Homo sapiens: one gene and its partners. The protein of the gene in region 3 interacts with the protein of the main gene of each other region in a biochemical or structural test. Each region holds a gene or a part of one and is shown on either strand. Other genes may lie near its edges.

Region 1 (3,653 bases), on a different chromosome or scaffold from region 3:
AACTTGGTTGGCTGCGCATATCTGTGAAAGATAAGCAGGGAACATTCAATCCAAGGAGTCCTTTGGCCATTATGCTTTTCTTTAAAGTAAGCTCACAAACCTTTTTCCTGGGTTAGGTCCACGCTCTAGGTAAAGAGTTCTGAAACTAAAGTCTACTTTTCATAACAAAACTATTTACTTGTTCCATCTCTTAGTTGTTTAATAAACATTTTCAGAGAATCATAAATTATTGTGCCCCTAGCTTTGTTTAGCAATAAAAGGTAATATAGAAAGCAGCACAGTATTTTCCAATTCCGGAAGCTTTAGCACCAAGAACCCAGACATCCTACAGCCAGTCAAGTTTTCACCCAAAAAAATGCGAACATGAAAATTTCAACATAATAGAATACAAGTGATACCACCTATGTGTGCATGCACACACACTTCACAAAGTTGTATTAAAACTATAAGTGTAAACTTAAAGGAACTGACGGAAATTTTAAAAAAGAAATTAATTAAAAAGAAAAAAACTTCATTTTTAACGTAAATAAACATAAAGCTCTGGGTTTACAAGATTTGGATAAAATGTAACCACTCTGACATCTGATCAATTTCATCAAAAGGAAATTAAACTCAACTTTAAAATCTCTACTATCTCTGGCTGGGTGAGGTGGCTCACTACTGTAATCCCAGCACTTTAGGAGGCTGAAGCAGGAGGATCACTTGAGCCCAGGAGTCCCAAGGTTACAGTGAACTATGATCACACCACTGCACTCCAGCCTGTGTAACAGAGTGAGACTCTGTCTCTAAAAAATATTAATAAAGTAAGATAAAAACCTCTACTATCTCTAATGTTATATATAATCTTTATTTTAGATGGGATGAAATATTTAACACTAATCCTAGAATCAAAAGATAACCAATAGGTTTTTAGCAACTCAAAGTCCTTGCTTGACTATACTTATAGAGAAAATGGACCAATCATCCAAAAGAAACATAGTATTTTACAACTGAAAGTAGCAATTCTTTAATATTTAAAGCAAATCCAAATTAGCATTAATTAATAAATGACTCTGATTCTTTTTTTTTTTTAAGAGGGAGGGGGCTGTCCTCACTATGTTGCCCACATTGGACTTGAACTCTTGAGGTCAAGCAATCCTCCTGTCTCCCCAGAAGCTGGGACTACAGGAGCTTCAAATGACTCTTGATTGTATTATATTTCCAATACATGCTGCAGTGCAAATAAATAAATAAAAAAAATTAGCTGAAACTGAAGTTTCTAGAATACTTAGTTGGACCTCCCCTTTTTACAGGCCAATCATGGAGCTAAATGGTTACTTTGTTACACAGATTGAGGGAGTAAATCTCTGTGTTAATGAATACACTATCTTATCGGCTTCAAGAAGAGTAACCTCAAGCACAAAAAGAAAAGAATTAAGTCTAACTGAAGGTACCATGATTAGCAAAAACACTTTGGTTTCAGGAATTGCAAAGACAGACTGGCCATTACAGGAAGTTGTATTAATGCTGACAATGTTAAACTGTTTACAGAAAGTAGGAAGCTGTGGGATGTTCCTCCCACTGTCACACACACTGTCCTGTCCTACGTAACAAGTGTTGCCTTATTTCTCAATAAGTGAATATAAATTAAACAAAAAAAAATAGTTGGAAATGACTCCTAGCCATTTTGTCAGTTTTCATCCATATCTCCAATTGTATCATCCAGCCAACCCCTGACTCCCATCTCTTTATTCATCTGAGTTACCAAATTATCTAGCTATTGTCACATAAGAAGGTTTTCTAAAGACAGGGTAACTCAAAAGTGCAGTGGCAGGCTATGTTGAATGTACAGCCAGAGTAGAGTATTTCAAATATTTAATTCAGTACTAAAACAGGCCACTTCTTACAATCTATTATCCTCAGTATGCTAATTTATAATAACTAGAAAGGTACCTTAAGTTATAACGAGAATGTGAATCTTGTATTTTTCTTTTCCACAGTAAGCTATTTAGCTGACCCATGATGGAACTAACCAAAAAAGGAAATGTTTACCTTTGGGAACTTAGAAAGAAAAACATTCATGTTTACACCCAAAGTTATTACTAACAAATGAGTAGTCTGCTAAAAACCTAAGCTGTGTTATCAACACCCTATCCCTTGTCCCGAAAATTGATTAAAGGGCAGTTGTTCATCTTAGGCAAAATGTTAAGTCATGTAGGGCCTTAAAACCTGTCAGTTTTTAATGTGCATTAATAAGTTTAATAATCAAATCATTAGTTGAAACGAAAAGGTTAATTTTAATTTTAGTTATTTTATCTGCTAACCTCTATTTCTTCTGATGTTTACCTTTCCTATCCAAAATTCAAAAATATGCTGCTAAACATAACAAAACACATTTCAACCCCCCCAAATAAAAATTATAATTACACAAGAACTGTCCACTTCCTAGAAAATTAGGAAACTATTATAGAAATAATCCATATTTCCCAGAAGGAACTTAATGTAGAATTAAATTATATTACATATTTTTTAATTTTTATTTTTTTGAGACAGGGTCTCACTCTGACGTTCAAGCTGGAGTGCAGTGGCATGATCTCCACTCACTGCAACCTCCACCTCCTGAGTTCAAGCGATTCTCGTGCCTCAGTCTCCTGAGTAGCCAGGACTACAGGTACATGTCACCATGCCTGGCTAATTTTTGGTTTTGGTTTTGGTTTTTGGTAGAGATGGGGTTTCACCATGTCAGCCAGGCTGGTTTCCAACTCCTGACCTCAAGTGATCTGCCTGCCTCAGCCTCCCAAAGAGCTGGGATTACAGGTATTTTATTTTTTTAGAACATCTTTGTAATTAAGAATGTCTGAAAAACGAGGAAATAAAAGTGTCAGGCACTATGCTAGTAGGAGAGAAAAAGACAAACTAGGCATACCAAAGGACTTCTACATGACTGACAGCCACACATGAAAGCTGTGACTCTAACACACATAATGGGTACTGTGAGGAGTGACAGGAGTAAGCATGCTAGGGAAAGCAAAGGACACGGAGATCTCCATTCTAGCCAAGAAGACTGGAGATGCTTCAAATAAAGAGACACAGCCCCTAAGGCACTGTTCCTGGGGAAAGGGAGGGGGCATGGAGCAAATTCATCCAAACCACCTATGGCTATTTGCTGAAAACACAGATCACTGGGTCCCATCCCAGAATCCAGAATCAGATCCTCAGGTATAAAGTCTGAGCATCTGCTTGTTTGTTTTAACAAGCATTCCAGTCCATGGGGTCCATGGGCCACATTTAGTGTGATTATCACTACATTAAGTGAAGGGTAAGACCTAGTAACAGATAGGGTAAAGAATAATTCTGGCAGAGGGACTACGCATGATGAGAGCTATAGAAGCAAAAAATTAGGGTATGTGGGAATCAAGAGATTACAGAGTATGTCCAGTGGCCTAATGAAATATATTGCTGGAATCACAGGTAAGCTAGCTAGAGTCTTTACTCCCACAAAAAAGCTGAGCTCTGTTCTGAAGACAATGGTGAGCCACCAAAGCTTTCTGAGCAAACCAATGCTGTGTTTGAACAAGACTGCCTTGGAGTCCAAGCAAGAGGTAGCAGAACACAAAATAGAGGAAAGGAGGGAATGAATGCAAGAGACGTTACAGAGGTAGAAAAATCAGAAC
Region 2 (3,653 bases), on a different chromosome or scaffold from region 3:
GGTAAAGGTGCGATAGAAGCCCATGGTACAAGCATCTGGGTCCTCATCCATAAGATGGGGATGGCTCCATCCACTCCAGGGATGTCAGCTAAAATGAAACACAGCATCCGACCACAGGGAGCCGGGAATAAACGACCGCAGCCTCACTTCCTTTTCTGGCCCTGTGGAGATGCTGCTCTGCCCACCTGAGTCGGCTTCTGTCTTCTTGCCAGGCCCTCGAAAGTGTACCTCCTTTCCAGATCCTGCTAAAGCTCCATTCACCCCAAGAAGCCTCCCTTCCCCAGCGTTCGGGAGAGATCATGCGGACAGGGAACCCAGCTCAGATGCCACATGATGCCCTGGAAAAATGGCAGCCACTGTTATCCATGCAGTTCGGTGCTTGGATTTAGACTCACTTAATGCATTTCTGAATGCTCCCTGGATCACTGTGATCAGAGAGTAAGCACACGAAGGGCAGGGACCCTTTTTTCCTGGTATCCCTGACAGAGCTCGGGCCCAGGCTCTATAAATCCCTAGAGAAGTGACTGAACGGAGCAGAGGCTTTAAGGCTTCCAAGCACACAGATAAGCTGTGGAAAGCTTTGCCTTGTCCCATAAAGGGACAAGTACAGGTCCGTGCTGCTTCATAGAAGGGATCGTTAATACTCTGCCTTCTAACAGCCAGTACACACACTGCCTCCTCCACCCCAACGAGCATCCCGCAGGGCCCCAGGCAGCGCTTCCTGGCCCTCCTCACAGCCAAGTGTACACAGAACATGATGATATCACAAGGTACCCTGGGTGGCTTCCAGAAGGTAGCTGACCCACATCCTGCCCAGCCATGTTGGGGACCCAGCACTGAGGAGATCAGTATTGGAGAATCCCCATAATCCATGCAAAAAGTGGGGACCCACAGCCAAGACGCTGACAGAGCCAGGATCTGAACCCAGGTCTGTGTGACTGAGTATCGTGTTTCCCGCCCCCACTCCCAAAACATGCTGCCAGGTGGGAGCACTCGGTTATCTCCTCCTCCTCTTCCTTTGTATTTAACAAAGGTCTCATTGAAAATATCAGCCTATCTAAACGGTACTGGGAAGTGGTTTGTGCTGACCCCTGGGCTGGAGGTCTTAGGGAGTCCCGACACAATGTGGAATGGTGAGGCCCGCGTGGCAGGAGAACCACAAGAACAGGGGAAGCAGGTTGTGGTGGGGCTCGCTTGTTCACTGCCCTCCCTCCCTGGGAAACACTCAATGTGGGGTTCTCTGTCTAACAAGGAAGACTTATAAGTGTTTTGTCCTCCAAAGAAGTGTTTTTCAACCAAGCACAGTGGCTCATGCCTGAAATCCCAGCACTTTGGGAGGCCAAGGCAGGAGGACTGCTTGAGCCCAGGAGTTCCAGACCAGCCTGGGCAACATAGAAAGACCTCATCTCTACAAAAATAAAAAAATTAGCCAGGCGTGGTGTCTCACGCCTGTAGTCCCAGCTACTCAGGAGGCTGAAGTGGGAGGACTCCTTGAGCCTGGGAGTTCAAGGCTACAGTGAGCCCTGATCGAGCCACTGCACTCCAGTCTGGGTGACAGAGGGAGACCCTGTCTCAAAAAACAAACAACAAAAAATCAATAAAGAAGTGTTTTCCCCTTCCTGCTTCAAAAAGGTTTAGACTGTGGTGAACAATGAGAGCCTAAGGAACACCAAGGCCTCCCCCTGAGTCCTCACCACAGAGAAGCCACAGGCACAATGGAAAAAGCATGAGGTTGGGTTCCGAACAGACGCAGGTTCCAATCCTAGCCTCTTTGCTTGCGAGCTCAGGTCTGTGGGTGAGTCACAGAGACTGTGCTTCAGTCTCCTCAACTATAAAATGGGAACAAAGACAACAGTACTTCCTTTCAGAGTTGTGAGGGCTGGAGAGAAAGCACGTAAATACCTAGTTTGATGCTGGCGCATAGCAGGTTCTCAGTAAATGATGCCTCTGATTATCAGGCCACTTCTCTGACTGAGGATACCCATGCTTAGGGGCTTTTTCATGTAACTTCTATTGTGATAACTACAACATTCCTTCTTCTGCAGACAAGATGCAGTGCATGGAGTGTCAGGAAAGTGCACACTGTTGTTACGTGGAGTAAAACCATCAGAGTCAAGGAACCAACACCACCATAGCCCAGCTGCTTCTTTTAAGAGGCTGTGAACAGAGGGGTTCCCAACAGAGAACATACACGCTCATCTTCTGAACTTGGACAATGATCAAAGACTTCTCCTCAGCACCCAAAGCAGCCCTAGAGATTTCCCAAACTTGGGGAGAACCCACGGGGAAGGAAGGTAGAGAGCTTCCTGGCCTGGGCCGGGCTCACGGGTAGGCATCATTGAGGACCTGCAGGCACTCCACTCCTCCTGCTCCCCTCCACCTCTACTCCACCACTAAGCGCTGTTAATTCCACCCCTTAAATCTCTCTCTCTCTTTTTTTTTTTCTCAGACAGAGTTTCGCTCTTGTTGCCCAGGCTGGAGTGCAGTAGCACGATCTCGACTCACTGCAACCTCCACCTCCTGGGTTCAAGTAATTCTCCTGCCTCAGCCTCCTGAGTAGTTGGTATTACAGGCATGCGCCACCATGCCTGGCTAATTTTGTATTTTTAGTAGAGACGGGGTTTCTCCACGTTGGTCAGGCTGGTCTCGAACTCCCAACCTCAGGTGATCCACCTGCCTCTGCTCCCAAAGTGCTGGGATTACAGGCATGAGCCACTGCACCAGGCTAAATATCTCTTAAGTCTGCCCACCTCTCCCCATCTCTCACCTAGACGACTCCAAAACATTCAGACCTGGTCTGCCTGCATCACTGGGACGGAGCCAGTGACACTGTAGTAGCAGTCACTGAGAGCTGGTTGTTAACTACTCAGGAATCAGGCCGGAGCGGGCTATTAAACTACTGGTGGCTTGAAGTCAGCCCTGGTGGGAGTAGCTACTCCATGAGAACTGCTGCACACTATGGATCAAGGCATTTCTTCCGAGAGCTGATTTTTTCCCAGCACGCTGCCCACTGCTTGGGCCCTCCCAATCTGTCCCCATGGGCACAGCGCCTCCCTCTAACATCGTTCCACTGCTCCTCCATCAAAACAAAACCTCCTCGGCTGAAACTGCCCAAAAAACACCACAGGATCTGACTTGCACCGTCCACCCTCAGCCACCCAGGCACTTGTGCCCCATCCTCCCTTCCGGCCACGCTGGCCTTCAGTCTTGCCCACTTGCCACACCTGCCCTCCACAGAGGCCCCTCAGGAGCCTCTCCCTTGGCCTGGAACTCTCCTCCCACCTTCTCTGTCAAGCTGACTTCTACTAGGGCCTCAGTTCAAGTGTCACTTCCTTGGGGAACCTCCTCTGACACTGACTGATCCCACCCCAACGGAAGGTCTCAGTGCACTGGGTCCTTCTCCCAACTCACACTTTACCATACTTAGGAGCTTACATTTATAATTAGTTGACTAATGGCTCCTTCCCTTCTCCAAAGGTCTGCTTTAATTACCAATGTACACATAATAGACATTCGATAAATATTTGTGGACTGGCAGAGTGGATGATTTGGGGCACCTAGCACATATACAACGTCAGGCACTTGCTACAGGAGAACTGAAGGAACTCCAAAGGCCAGACCCAGCCCTGGCTGACCAGGAATGCAGGGTCCTG
Region 3 (3,653 bases):
AGTCACCTGGAGCCAACCCCTCAAGTGCGTCAGAGCTCGGGAGAAGGGAGAAGGGAGAAGGCATTGGCCCTGATGATGCTATTACCAAAGGCTGGTGGCCACTTCCTGGGAAGCAGGGGCTGGGAGTGGGAAAGCAGAGGGGGTGCCATGGGGCATATCATGTGGCAGGAAGATAAGCCTTGGGGCAGACCTCATGCCTCCAAAGCTGTCTCTGGTTTTGAGGTTAGCTCAGCACCTTACCACCTCTCCCATTTGAATGGAGGCTTCTGCTTTCTCAAGCATTTCCATGCTCTAATCTCATTAGATTCTCAAAGCAGCTTGATGAGGTAGGTAGGGAAGGAGTTATGGCTCCCATGTGAAAGATGAGAAACCTGAGACTCAAAAACATTTTGTGACTTCATCAAGTCATCAAATGCTCATGTGTACATTTGTGGTCAAATCTGGACTCAAGACTCAATTCTCAGGATTGCGTTTCCTATCCCATCACACAACCCAACAATGATGATAACCATGAAGCCACCATTTAGCCAGCACTCCCTGTGGGCTGGGCACTGGGCTAATGCTTTAGAGGCATAATCTCATTTAATCTTCCCAGTAGCCCTCGATGAAGGCAGCAATACCTTTATCAGCTGTAATTTGCCTACAGCAAGACCAGGGATTGTCATTGCCAGTGCAGAGATGTTTCTGCACGGTGGGCACGAAGGCCAGAGCAGGAAGGAAGAGTGTCTGTGCTTCATTGTGAACAGAGATCAGAGTTGTTCATTGTGAGTCTCACCAATGGACTGCTTTTCATGAAAGCTGAGTGGCTATTTTGTTCATTATAAAGTGAATGTTCTGTCTTGGGTTGGGTCCTTAACTATAACATGGGCTGTCAACTGTTAGGCTCTGGCATCAACTTACAGAGGAACTGGAACTGAGTATTCTGACAATGAAGAATGAATGATGGCATCAACTTAGAGAGGAACTGGAACTAAGTATTCTGACAATGAAGAATGAACGAAGAACACGAGAAAAGCAGTTCCCTGTCGAAAGCTCTTGCTTTCATTTGTTGCTCCTTGAAGGCTGAATTCCTAGTGTTCTTGCTAAGGAAATACATTTGCAGAAAGACTGAAATCCCTACTCTTTAGATCTCTTAGAAGATAAAGGTTCTAAAGGGAAACTACCTATTACTCATCACCTTCACTTCGAGATGTTCCTCAGGCCTCCCCTGTCTTGTGTGGTCTGTGAAGCCTCCTGACCATCAGTCCCTCACTCCCTGCCTTCTGATCTGCACAGCTGTGGCCTTCCTTCTTCCTGGGATGGATCTGACTAGGACTCTCCTCCACTGAAACCCTGAGTGGGTCCACAGATCCTACAGGATCAAAGCCACATTCACTGGGTCTTTATCCCAATCTCATTCATTACTATGAGCACCAGGAAACCCTATGATCTAGCTACACTTTTTAACTGTCCTGGAAAAGACCAAGATGTTTTTGTCCCTTGGCCTTTGCTCATGTTGGAATGTCATAAGTTGTCATTTTTTAACAAACCTTTCTAAGATCCTGATTTGTGTGCCGGATCCTGGCAGTACCCAGATTAGAAACACAGACCCTGCCCTCAAAGGATCCAGGGCCCAGGGACACTGAACCTCCTTTCCTGTCCTGCCCCCGTTCCAATCCTGTTGTTTTCAGGAATACCCTCCCCACCCCTTCCGTCAAAGGAAATCCTCATTCTTTACAACTCAATTCATCCACCAGGTGCTCCAAGAAGCCTTTCCTGATCCCTGAGGATACCATCTTCTTTTATGTGCCTATTTATTCTGCTTAATTAGTTGTTTACTTATCTATCACTCCCTTTAGACCAAAAGCTTCTTTAGAATAGGGACAAGTGTCTCAGTCAGTTCTTTATCTCCACATTGCTTTGTGCCTAGCACGTGCTCAAACAATGCCCACTGAAAGAAATGAGCTCTGAATGTGCTAATACCTATCCGCCATGGGCGATGTTTAGTGGGGATTGGTACTTCTTTCCTATCTTACATGTCTCAGAACCATGAAGATCATTTTGATTGTCTATGACAGGCCATGTCTTAAATCTGAATCACATCACACTAGTTATCTCTCAGTTTGGGCAGGAATAAGGCAAACAAACACTTCATGCTGAGCAAAACATCCCAAACAACTTTCAGGAAAGGCAACCTATTGGAGTGGTTCACAGTGAACATCTCTGATATCTGTATATAATGAGGCACAGTCACTCTCCTCTTCCTGCTCCATCCTGTGTACTCACAGCATAGAACTGCCACTATGCAGGAAATAGCAAACAGTTCCTAGTTTTACTGTTAGCAAATTGTAGCTGATAAAGTGAAGTGCTCCCATGATCAATGATGCTCCTTTATTCTGATTTTATTTTTTACTTTTTTTTTTATTGAGACAGGGTCTTGCTCTGTCACCCAGGCTGGAGTGCAATGGTGCAATTATGGCTCACTATAGCCTCAACCTTCTGGGCTCAATTGATCCTTTCACCTCAGCCTCCCAAGTAGCTGGGACTACAGGTTTGCACCACTATGCCTGGCTAATTTTTGTATTTTTTATATAGACAGGGTTTCACCATGTTGCCCCGGCTGGTCTTGAACTCCTGGGCTCAAGCGATCTACCTGCCTTGGCCTCCCAAAGTGCTGGGATTACAGATGTGAGTCACTGTGCCCACCCTGTTCTGATTTTAAAGACATGAAAACAATAATAAAAGTCAACACGTTTTTCTTGGTCCTAGATTTATTGGTGGTTCTGGACTAGGATGGGAAAGAGATGTTCAGTGTGAACTTGCCCGGGTTTGGGAAATAGCCTGTTACTCTCATTTCACTCATCATCTCCCCAACACTAGGACTTCTTGACAGACATCAATCAGCAAACTTTTTTCCTTTCCTTTTCTCCCTCCTTCCTAGAATCCATCCTGGATTTCCAGAGCCTTCCCCCAGCACCACTAGATGACCCCAGTGCATGGGTTTGGACCCCTGCCTCGGTCCTGGCACCAGGAGGAGGTGAACCTTTGCACACAGGTCTTACCTCAGGAGCTATGTAGTCAGGAGTCCCACAGAACGTGGTGGTCGTCACACCATTCAGAATCCCTTCCTTGCACATCCCGAAGTCAGCCAGCTTGCAGTGACCTTCTGCATCCAGAAGGATGTTGTCCAGTTTCAAATCCCTGCAAGATAGGCCAGGACCATAATGTCAATACGTCACTCACCCCAATATAGTCTTCCTGAGTTGGAGGTATGTGCCTATCTTAGGGAAATCTCCAGCAAAAAAGTCCTGAAAGAAGCTTGTGTTTCTTGAAACCCATCTCAGTCCAGGGGCTCTCTCTCATGTTAGTCAGCCCCTAACGGCACCTCCACTTTCTTCAGCAAGAGGGAGGAACTTCTGTAACCCCAGGAATATATCAAGACTGCTGTGGTTTAATAGAGCTAAGTCAGTAGGTATATATAGAAGCCCTGCTATGCACCCACATTCATATTAATGAGATCCTGCTATGAAAGAAAGAAGCATCTACCCCTGTCCCTCATGAACTAACCATGGGGATCAGCTGGGGTTCCCAGCATGACACATAGGGACATCAACGAAACGGTTAAAACCACCTAAGAGTCAGGCACTACTTTATAGAACACTATGAGAGCTAAT

What was found.
Region 1: of the proteins of PRKCE (region 3) and GNA13, one has a biochemical effect on the other in vitro, tested with the Homo sapiens proteins (one study listed by BioGRID).
Region 2: of the proteins of PRKCE (region 3) and IKBKB, one has a biochemical effect on the other in vitro, tested with the Homo sapiens proteins (one study listed by BioGRID).

The regions. Positions count from the first base shown.
Region 1 is NC_000017.11:65,046,603-65,050,255, forward strand, and holds part of GNA13 (guanine nucleotide-binding protein subunit alpha-13), read right to left. Parts: intron 1-3,653. UniProt on the Homo sapiens protein: Guanine nucleotide-binding proteins (G proteins) are involved as modulators or transducers in various transmembrane signaling systems.
Region 2 is NC_000008.11:42,277,788-42,281,440, reverse strand, and holds part of IKBKB (inhibitor of nuclear factor kappa-B kinase subunit beta), read right to left. Parts: intron 1-3,653.
Region 3 is NC_000002.12:46,144,620-46,148,272, reverse strand, and holds part of PRKCE (protein kinase C epsilon type), read right to left. Parts: intron 3,181-3,653; coding exon 3,042-3,180; intron 1-3,041.